3 linked regions of the Homo sapiens genome follow. The protein of the gene in region 1 purifies or fractionates together with the protein of each later gene. This does not show direct contact. Each region holds a gene or a part of one and is shown on either strand. Other genes may lie near its edges.

Evidence for each region.
Region 2: the proteins of SLC30A10 (region 1) and ADPGK purify together in Homo sapiens (affinity purification with mass spectrometry; one large-scale study listed by BioGRID and IntAct). This does not show direct contact.
Region 3: the proteins of SLC30A10 (region 1) and ADCY9 purify together in Homo sapiens (affinity purification with mass spectrometry; one large-scale study listed by BioGRID and IntAct). This does not show direct contact.

What each region holds. Positions count from the first base shown.
Region 1 is NC_000001.11:219,918,548-219,922,200, reverse strand, and holds part of SLC30A10 (calcium/manganese antiporter SLC30A10), read left to right. Parts: intron 1-3,653. UniProt on the Homo sapiens protein: Calcium:manganese antiporter of the plasma membrane mediating the efflux of intracellular manganese coupled to an active extracellular calcium exchange.
Region 2 is NC_000015.10:72,752,668-72,756,320, forward strand, and holds part of ADPGK (ADP-dependent glucokinase isoform 4 precursor), read right to left. Parts: coding exon 3,584-3,653; intron 2,988-3,583; coding exon 2,889-2,987; intron 475-2,888; coding exon of another isoform or gene 448-474; exon of another isoform or gene 402-447; intron 229-401; coding exon 1-228. UniProt on the Homo sapiens protein: Catalyzes the phosphorylation of D-glucose to D-glucose 6-phosphate using ADP as the phosphate donor. GDP and CDP can replace ADP, but with reduced efficiency.
Region 3 is NC_000016.10:3,969,912-3,973,564, reverse strand, and holds part of ADCY9 (adenylate cyclase type 9), read left to right. Parts: intron 1-3,653. UniProt on the Homo sapiens protein: Adenylyl cyclase that catalyzes the formation of the signaling molecule cAMP in response to activation of G protein-coupled receptors.

The sequences.
Region 1 (3,653 bases):
AAAAAAAAAAAAAAAAAAAAAAAACACACACACACACACACAAACAAGAAGGTAAAAAAATTCTTTTAAAAAGTAAAAAAATTAACCAGTGCAGTGGCACACATCTGTAGTCCTAGATACTTGGGAGGCTGAGATGGAAGGATCATTTGAGCCCAAGAGTTCGAAGTTGGAGTGAGCTATGATTGTGCCACTGTACTCCAGCCTGGGTGACAGAGGGAGACCCCATTTTTTCTCTCTCTCTGTCTCTCTCTCTCGGTCTCTCTCTCTCTCTCTCTCTCTGTCTCTCTCTCTCTTTCACACACACACACACACACACACACACACACACTCAGAGACACCCCACAGAATTTTGCCAGTGCACTGTAGTTAATGGTCATGACCAGGCCTTCTTCATCTTTGCATGGGCAGCCAGAAGATACATTGCATTATTAAATGTCAGGAATTGAGTGGGATACTGCTTTAAACAGTTTTTCAAACTGAAGGCTGCGACAATTTGGGCCCTAGAATTAGTTTAGTAGAAAATTAATTATAATTGAATGAAATAGAATAGATAATATTAAGAAGTCATATATAAGGATGAGTTTTGCTTTCCCATGAATTATTTGTTGCAATTTGTATCTCTGTGCTAGGATGCAAAACATAATTCTTACTGTGGATTATGGGAAAAACAAGTTCAAAAGTTACTATTTTATGTAATTCTTAGGGGGTAATAGTGGGATTTCTCAGAAGGAAAAGCTGAAATTGAATTTTAGAACTTACATGAGGCAGGATGCACAGTAGATCTCTGGTCAGACCACCCAGATTGATATCCCCAGTTAACACTTTTTAGTTGTGTGATTTTGGACAAGTTACTTATGTATTCTGTGCCTCAGTTTCCTCATTTGTAAAATGAAGAGAGTACCAGCCATAAATAATCAAAAGGGTCAGATTCCAGTTTTCCAGAGTTTATTCAAGTGAAAAGTTGGCAATGGCCATTCCGGGACTCATCACTCCAGAGAAATGGGGATAGGGTTCCAAAGTTAAAAGCTAAATTCTTGCTTATATATAAGACAAAGAAATTTAGCAGGGTTACAACATTTTGTATACAAGCCTGGTTTAGTAGTTAAAAAAATTAGTTACAATTTGTTTTCTTTTCCACGCGGCTTGTTTTCTTTATAGCTGGTTTTCATTTCCTTTCCAACTTAAAAGAGTGTATTTAACATTCCATATTAAGGGACTGTGATAGCCATGATGTCTTGTATGAAAAAGGTAAGAGGGAGAATGAAAATCAACAGGAAGAGAGAAGGGGGTCTTCCCTGGGGCCCTTTGCCATTTACAACATTTTACAGAGCAATGCAGGTAAGGAAAAAGACTGAATTCAGACATACAACAGCTTACAGCTGCCTGTCACGTAGCTCAGGCCCTGTAATTCACATTCCTTGAAGGCTCAAAATACTTTTGAGTTCCAACAGCTTAGATTTTGCATTACTTATTTTTACAAGGGTAACCACCTTACAGTCCTTAAAAGGACTTAATGGGTAAGTATAATACGCTTAAATCAATACCTGGAGCATATGTGTTAGTTAGCATAATAATAATAATAGTTATTATTATTAAAGACAAGAGTTACTGTATGTCATAGGAGTTATGACAATCAACCAGAAGCTACTGTTTTATTGAATGCCTACATTGCTATTATATAAACAAAGGCAATTTGGAGTATGGCCCTGATCCTCATGTTACTTACGGAGGAAATGGACCTAACATGTATGAGACAATCAGAGAATAACAGACTGTCTCACGCAGTAAACATGACATCACATGTGTATAGGAGATATTAGGCTTTCATATTTTTATGGTAGCATTTTGTACTGTCCTGAAGCAAGTTAAAGCTTCGATTCTTAGCTCCTTGTAGAGGAACAAAGTATTTTTGAGTTTCCCTTCAGTGGTTCAGGACAGGGACTGGGGAGTTAAAAGCTCCTTTGGGGGTGGGGTGTTGGGAGAAAGGAGCACAGCATTAGAAAATGAGAATGTTAATGTATATATTGAATCAAGATCTTATTATCATAAGTAAACACTCATCCAAAAGGAAATATGGGAATTCTTTTTATTCCTGTATTTTTTTGGGGAAAATTTGAGGCAACTGCCTCAAATTACATTTAGTGTTCACATGCCATTTTACCTATGATGTTATTTAGAATTGTGGAGTTGTTGCCAAGAGGAGGAATTAGCTCAATTAAAGCACCTTCCAAATGAGACTGTTTAGTCTTAGCCATGAGTAAGTTGTTAGTAATTTGGATTATTATTAATTCTACTGCATAAGTCTGTGGAATACATGGAGAGACAAAGCAGACCTTTCTTAATATATATGCTTTCTTCTAGAGCAGTGCTTTGGAAACTTGTATGTGCATTCCAATCATCTGGGCATTTTTTTTTTTTTTTTTTGAGACAGAGTTTCACTCTTGTTGCCCAGGCTGGAGTACAATGGCACTATCTCGGCTCACTGCAACCTCTGCCTCCTGGGTTCAAGCGATTCTCCTGCCTCAGCCTTCTGAGTAGCTGGGATTACAGATGCCCCCACAATGTCCAGCTAATTTTTTGTATTTTTAGTAGAGATAGGGTTTCACCATATTGGCCAGGCTGGTCTTGAACTCCTGACTTCAGATGATCTACCTGCCTTGGCCTCCCAAAGTGCTGGGATTACAGGAGTGAGCCACCACGCCCAGACTCACCTGGGCATCTTTTTAAAACGCAGGTTCAGATTCTACAGATCTGAGGTGGGTCCTGAGATGCATCATTTCTAACAACCTCCTAGGTGATGCTGATGCTGCTGGTTTGCAAACTATACTTTGAATTGCAAGATTCAGATGTTGCTTTTTGTAAAAAACAAACAAAATCCCCCAAAACCAAAACCCAAAACTTTGTGTTTATATTTTATAATTTTTCTGACCAAATTTTTACCTAATTTACTTACTGAATCCCAATTTAGTCTTTGGCTAACAATTGGGCACTCAAATCTTTGCTGAGGAATGCATGTGTTCTATATCATAATCAATATCTTTAGAAACAATTCCCTTAATTAAAGGCACCCACAATTTTTAGTATTATCTGTAGAATTTTAATTTTATTTTATTGTGATAAATGGCTCTTTATGCAATGGAAATGTTGCCAGAGTCCCTGTTCTTGGACACCTCTTAAACCAAATGCCATTTAAATGACCACAGACTAAATACAAAGTAGGTAAATGCTTACAGGGAAAGGGGAAAGTGGATCAAGGTAGAAAAAAGACAATTTGTTTTAAACACTCTTAATACAACTTGTTCTCTCTCCCCTTAAACATGTTTAAAACAACGTAAAGCACAGATGATTGTCTGAAAGAAAAAGAAATCATTTGCACAGCCCCTGTTTTCCAGCTTGGTGCCCTTTGATGGGTGGTGAGTGGTAGCGATGTGGCCCAGTGAGACGGCACAGTCGCTCTTCCTGCAGGTCAGAATCTTCCTAGGCTGTTGCTCTTCCAAGGTACTCTGAGTCCTGCGATGGTGGCCTGGGGTTTTGTTTCCTAAGAAGTAGTTGCCATTATTTTGATTCATCCTACTGTTCTAACCAAAACAAAAACCAAAAAACTCCAAATGGTAACAGATATTCATATACCCGGACACCCAAGTCAGTGAGTG
Region 2 (3,653 bases), on another chromosome or scaffold:
CAGGATGTGGTAGACCAGCGTGTGGAAATGGATCCTGGTGAGATCCGAGGCTCTGCTTTTACTCCTCCCATGTTCTTTCAAGATCCAGAAGAGGATGTCACTGACCATGCCCACATCAGGAACACCGTTCCAGGAAGAGAGAGAAGAGTGAGGTCCAGAGGCTGACTGGGTGAGAAATAACAGCTCCTGTTCATTCAGCCCAAGGGAAGTCACCGCGGGAAAGACCTGCTAACAAAAACAACAACAGGTATCTTTCTGATGGAGATAACCTGGCTCCTAAGATGTCTTATGACACAGCCAGTGACTAAATGACAGGGAACACAGGCAGGCAGCTTTCTTCCTTGATACAGGACTCCCTGGCCCTGAAGTCACTGTTTTAGCTATCACACCCCTATCTTCACCTTCATCATCATTTGGGAGAAACTGGAAAGCTGCAGTAACATTGTTTCAGATGCAGTCTTTTGTGATATGCCACTGTAAGACAAAAGGCAGAGGTGTCTATATTTTGTGTTTCTTTCCATGGTCCCTAGCTTTTGCCACTGCACACATAGGAGATACTCTTACCACTGATGGGGCATGGCTCTCAGTTCCTGAATGTCAGCAGTATTAGACCAGTAAAATGGAGACCTCAAGCAACATACTGTCAGGGTTATAATGATTTTTTTTATACAAAACACCAAGAAGCAAAAAGCATACAGTTTCATGTTAGAGCTAAGCTTTTTAAAAGCAGGTGTGGGTTAGGAAGACTGTCTGAATTTAGCAATAACACTGTAAGAAAAAGATTACCAAACAGGTGCCCGTGTTTTCTGTCTGATGGGGAACCACAATATCCACCTCCCTGTCTTTCTTACTTAGCACTTCCCTCCTTAGAACCAGAGAACCACACTTAAGGTAACAATTTTTGCAGGAGAGAGGAGTCCTTGTATGTATGTGTGCATGTATAAAATGGTTTTAAAAATTTAATGGCCTACATCTTTGTTGGAGCAATAGCAGCTTTCCTTCACTGCATGTTCTTCTGTGTCAGGCACTGAGCTAAAGGCTTTATTTCATCCAATTCTTACTGTAATCTTCTGAGGGAAGGAGGGACTGCCTCCATTGTACAGACTAAGCCTCAGAAGGGTTAAGTAGACAGTTACAGAGAAAATGAAATAGAAATGGCTCATTTTTTTAAAGGTGAGAAGAAAAACCCAAACAAAAGCTATACTGAAAAACACCAAGAGTGAACCCAAGTGTAAACTATGGACTTTGGGTGCTGATGACGTGCCTGTGTAGGCTCACTAGCTTAACAAATGTACCACTCTGGTGCAGGCTGCTGGTAGTTGGGGAGGCTTGTGTGTGAGGGGACTGGAAGTATATGGGAACTCTCTTGGATTCTGCTCTATTTTGCTATGCACCTAATATTACCATAAAAAAAAAATGAAGTCTATCAAAAAAAAAAAAAACAAAACCAACGACAGTCAGCCCTCCATATCCATGGCTTCAACCAACTTCAGATGGAAAACAGAGTATTCAAGGATGTGGAACCTGCAGATAGGGAGGGCCAACTTGTCTAATCCACAGATTCCACAGGGCCAACTGCAGGACTTAACCATCTGCAGATTCTAGTATCTGGGAAGGGTTCTGGAACCGCCCCCGCCGCCCCACACACCGCTGATGACGAGGGATGACTGTATACTGAAATACCATTTTTTCATCTGTCAGACTGATATAAATGCAAATTTTAACATTCTGGTAGCAAGGATATGAGGGAACAAGTATTTGTAATTATTGCCAGTGGGAAGTAAACTGGTATAATTCTTATGGAGGGCAATCTGGCAATCTCAAAATTACAAGTGCTTTTTTATGCTCCAGTCCAGCTGTTCTACTTCTGAGACTTTCTCCTAAATATGGACTTGTTCACAGGCAAAACAAAATCATGTATCAAGTTGTTCACTGCAGCACTGTGTGTAACAGCAAAGGGCAGTAAATAACCAATATGTCCATCCAGAAGGTTCAGGTTAAGTAAACGGAGGTACATCTACACATTCATTTTAACCATATGGCTATGAAAAGACAGAGGATACTCTCCATGTTAGTGATGCAGGAAGATCTCCAAGATATATTTAGTGAAAAAAAGAGCAAAGTGAAGAACAGAGTATTCAGTAGGCTATGCTATCTTTTTGGGTAAAAAGGGATGGAAAACAAAATCAGGATATATTTCTGTATTTTCTTATACTTGTACAAAAGAACTCTGGAAATAAACTGATGAAGGGTGCAAGTAGGGAAGGGGAGGAAGTAGAAGGGAGACTTCATTGTATATCTTTTCATAGTTTTTGGGTATTTTTTAACCAAATGAATATATTACCAATTAAAATTAGGTAACACTAGATTGCCAGGTGAGGTAACTTGCCTGAGTTCATGAAGCCCGTGAGTGCAAGGCTGGCATGCGAACCCAGGTCTCCAGAGCTTGTGTTCTGAAGCTTCACCTGCTCAGATTTATACTAGTCAATGCTGCTGCCCAGAGGCAGGCACTGAACACCCAGATGCCTGAGGAAGGAGGGAGGTTCCCTCAAAGTTTCTTTGCTTTGAGCTTCTTGAAGTTCAACTGAAAGCAGCTGAGCTGGGCTTTCAGTTTTTTCCATTCACTTTCAACTTTTCCATTCCAGAGGAGAAATATGATCAACAATCTGTCAGTTACACTGCCATAACTTTAACCTAGTAGGAGATACTGCTGTTTCAGAACAGTCCTGGATCCTTATTTGGATCTCCATGGACTTGGGTCTGAGTGACACAAACCTACATGTCAGTGAGCCAGTCCCTGAGCCCAAACAGATGGTCCCACTGCACAAAAAAGCTTCTCTGCAAGGCTCTATGAGGATCAGGGCCAAACGATGGTCCCATGAGGTTACCTGATGGACAATGCTGCTCATGAGCTCCCTGTTAGTCATACTGGCCAGCTCTAGGTGAACTGGAATACCAGTGGGGATGTCAGAAATGGAGGTTACAACCTGCAAAGAGAAGAAGATAAGCACTGCCATTAGAAATAGAAGGAAGTCAAGAAAGAGGGAAGAAAAGATCAGATCCTGAGAGGCGGTTCCTCCTGGTAATGGCCTTCTTTGCATGCTCACGGGAGCTACAAGCAATGTGGGTCCCCACCACCTCTGTGGACAAGGGACACTCTTCCCACCAGGGAAGACTAGGCTGTGCAGAGCCATCAGGGATACAGAATCAGAGATGGCAGTTCACTTCGACTGCTGTACGAATCTGTAGGAGTTGCAGCATAGCTGATGTGAAGTGAGATGATACAAATAACACAAAGGACACAAACTACAAACCCTGCAGCTTGCAGCCATGGTCGGTTTAGCACAGGATGCAGAGGCTCAGGCAAGAAGATGTTCTGCCCTGTCCTACTCAAGCTGCTGCCCACATCTGAAGGGATACAGTGAGGTGCCTCACTGCAGCAGGAGGCAAGCTCCACAGCCAGCTGCCAAGATATGTCCCTGGGAGGCCAGGACCTAAGACAAGGCAGCAGATGCCAAGAGAGGCTGGAACCTGAAGAAAACCACCAGCTGAGATCTGTGAAATTCTGTAACAGTGCCATTACCTCCAAGAGTCTCTTCCTCTGGAGCTCCTTGCTTTGTCCCTCCATCATGTGCAATCCAGAGAGGACCACC
Region 3 (3,653 bases), on another chromosome or scaffold:
ATGGTGTCCTTGCACCCCAGCCTGGTTGTCACAGCAAGACTCTGTCTCAGAAAAAAAAGGCCAGGCACGTTGGCTCATGCCTGTAATTCCAGCACTTTGGGAGGCCAAGGCAGGTGGATCACCTGAGATCAGGAGTTCAAGACCAGCCTGGCCAACATGGCAAAACCCCGTCTCTACTAAAAATACAAAAATTAGCTGGGGTGGTGGTGGGCACCTGTAATCCTAGCCACTTGGGAGGCTGAGGCAGGAGAATTGCTTGAACCTGGGAAGCGGAGGTTGCAGTGAGCCAAGATCGGCCACTGCACTCCAGCCTGGGCGACAGAGTGAGACTCTGTCTCAAAAAATAAAATAAAATAAAAAAAAGATTCATTAGCAACTGTAGTTGTCAATAATAAATAAATTAACTGATTATACATTTACTCAAATAATACAACTGTTAAAATGCAGTAAATATGGAAAACATTTAAGATTTTCATTTACTAGGTGAAACTATATATGTACTATAGGTACAACTAGGTATTTATATATAGTAAAAATATGTACAAGATTTATACTTAGGATATAATGAATGAGTGATGATTACAGCTTTAGTACTTAAAAGTAAAGCACCTAGCATCTTTTTTTAACCTTTTATTGATGTGTATGTCAGTATGCACAGAAGAGTACCTGATCATAAAAGGACAGCTCAGTGCATTTTCACCAGAGAACACACCCATTTAACTACCACCCAGACCAAGAAGTAGAGCATTACCACTACCCCAGAAGCCCTCCAACCCCACCGCTGCTGACCCCCTCTCCCCCGACCTGACCACCTCCCTAGGGGCAGATTTTAAATGGCACTGAAATATACCAAAGTGTCAACCGAAGCCACGTTTGGCTGGTTAGGACTGCAAGTGATGTTTGCTTTCTATTTTTTTCAGTTTTTCAATCCCTCTTCTCCATGATAACGGATTACACTGTATTTTACTCTAACTTCCATTTATGACTTATAAATTAACTCCTGCATTTAGTCACATGAAATGCCTCTTTTTGAGCCAGGTGTGGTGGCTCACGCCTGTAATCCCAACACTTTGGGAGGCTGAGGCAGGTGGATCACCTGAGGTCAGGAGTTCGAGACCAGCCTGACCAACATGTTTGTGAAACCCCATCTCTACTAAAAATACAAAAATTAGCTGGACGTGGTGGCGGGCACCTGTAATCCCAGCTACTCGGGAGGCTGAGGCAGGAGAATTGCTAGAACCCGGGAGGCAGAGGTTGCAGTGAGCCTAGATCGCACCACTGCACTCCAGCCTGGGGGACAGAGCAAGACTCCATCTCAAAAAAAAAAAAAGAAAAGAAAAAGAAATTCTTCTTTTTGAAGTGGATCTTTGCTATTTGAATTTAGGAATAGGATCGGCTCCTTTGTTCCTTTGGTATTAAAATAGGAAACACACATTCTAGCTGGGAAGCTGTCCTCGTACCTGTTTCTTACAGATGCCTTCTGTTGCGAGGCAGCCCCCTTGGTTTCTGAGTGCACATGCTGTGTGTGATGGCTTTTCTTCCTTGGAAGCAAAGGTGGAAAGCAAACGCTGTGCTCTGCCTTCCTCTCCCTCTGGCACTAGCCCATGTGCTGCTGTCCCTCCTCTGCCTGGAGGGGCCTGGCCTGCGCCCGTCTCGAGTCAGCTGTGCTGCTGGCTCCGGCTCCCGCAGATTAGAGTGAGCTGTACAAGCGATAACTGATTGAGAAGCCCAGATACAGTCTCCCATTTCCACCACAGAGACTGGAAACACCCCCTGCACATAATGGGGATGTTAGACCTTGGTGACACCTGCTCCTAAAGGGGACTGTTCTTGGTGTCACCACTTTGAGAAACCAAAAGAAAGGTCAACTCCTAACCCAACGAGCGGGGCTCACAAAACCTTCCCCCAGTCCATATTCTCTTCCTGCTCTATTTACAATCAACCAGAGGGCTCATGGAGCTGGACAGAAATATGTTTGAGTCATCATCGTAACAAATGGTTATTTTGCTTAGTACTTGAGATGTAGGATATGTAATGTCATCTGTTTCAATAGCAGTTCACGAAATGAGTCAGTGAAGCACAGGGTGTCTTCCCACTGAGGACTCTTGGTTCCTGGTCATAGGCGTTGAGTCACAAAGCCCGTATCAGGGCTCCCAAGACCAGCCCCAGGTGGACTCAGGACTCCGCAATCTGCTCTCTCACCGCTGTGATTACAGCGAAAAGACATAAGGCAGAATCAGCAAAGGGAAGGGTGTGTGAGTTGACGTTTGGAGGAAGCCGGCACCAGCTTCCAAGAGTCCTCTCCCGGTAGAGTCACACGGGATGGGCTTAATTCCTCCAGCAGTGAGTGGTGACAACACTTGTAACATGCTGCCTACCAGGGAAGCTCATTAAAGTCTCGGTGTCCAGGCTTGTATTAGGGGCTGTTCAGGTCTCCCGCCTCTGCCCAGCACGTGCCTAAATTCCAGACTTCCAGCAGGAAAGCGGGTATTCAGCGTAAACCTCCTTATTTAGACAGTGTAGGCAGTGTGAGCCGCTCTTATCAAGGAATGGCAGGAACCCTCCCCAAATCCCAGCTCCCTGGTGCCAGCCACCACCTTTGCAGGCAGGTCTTTCCAAGGATGGCAGCCTCAGGCCTTTCCTGCACGGAACCTTAGGCTGGAAGGGACGTAGCCATGCTCCAGTCCATCTTCACAGCTTACAAGCGAGGAAACTGAGACCCAGAAAGATGGCATGGCTTACCCAAGATTCTGAAACTCCCCCGCGGTCCAGCCAGGATGGGGCCCAGGGGTTCTGTTCCACCCACGGCCAGGGCTTTTGGCGGTTGTGCTTCGCAGAGGGCCGTGATGGCCACACAGGTCAAGCTCATTGTTTTTTAATATCCCAAGAACAGTTAGTGAAACTTATTAGACACTTTGATTAAAGGACTGAGCTTTTGGCCGGGCATGGTGGCTCGTGCCTGTAATCCCAGCACTTTGGGAGGCCAAGGCGGGTGGATCACCTGAGGTCAGGAGTTCCAGACCAACCTGGTCAACATGGTGAAACCCTGTCTCTACTAAAAAATACAAAAATTAGCCAAGTATGGTGGCGCACACCTGTAGTCCCAGCTACTCGGGAGGCTGAGGCAAGAGAATCACTTGAACCTGGAAGCGGAGGTTGCAGTGAGCCAAGGTCGCGCCATTGCACTCCAGCCAGGGCAACAGAGCAAGAAAGAAAAAAGAAGAATTGAGTTTTGGCCAGGCGTGGTGGCTCATCCCTGTAATCCCAGCACTTGGGGAGGCTAAGGCAGGCAGATTGGTTGAGCTCAGGAGTTCAAGACCAGCCTGGGCAAGATGGCGAGACCCTGTCTCTAAAAGAAAAAGAATTGAGCTTTCCAGTGTGATGGAGCTGTCTAAACTGTGGATCCGCCAGTCGCATATATAAGTATATAGTGACCAAGCCCATTATTGCATCAAATCAACTGGCCTACTCTGTGCGCGGGAGGAATGCATCAGGGTACAGCATTTACATGAACAGAACAGTCACGGTGTTGTAAAAAAGAAAAAGACTAGAATGCAGTTCAACAAATGTTAATAGTGATTGCCTCTGGATGGCAGGACGATGGACAAATCTTTTTTGTCTATTTTTTTCTACATTTTCTATGATGAGTATGT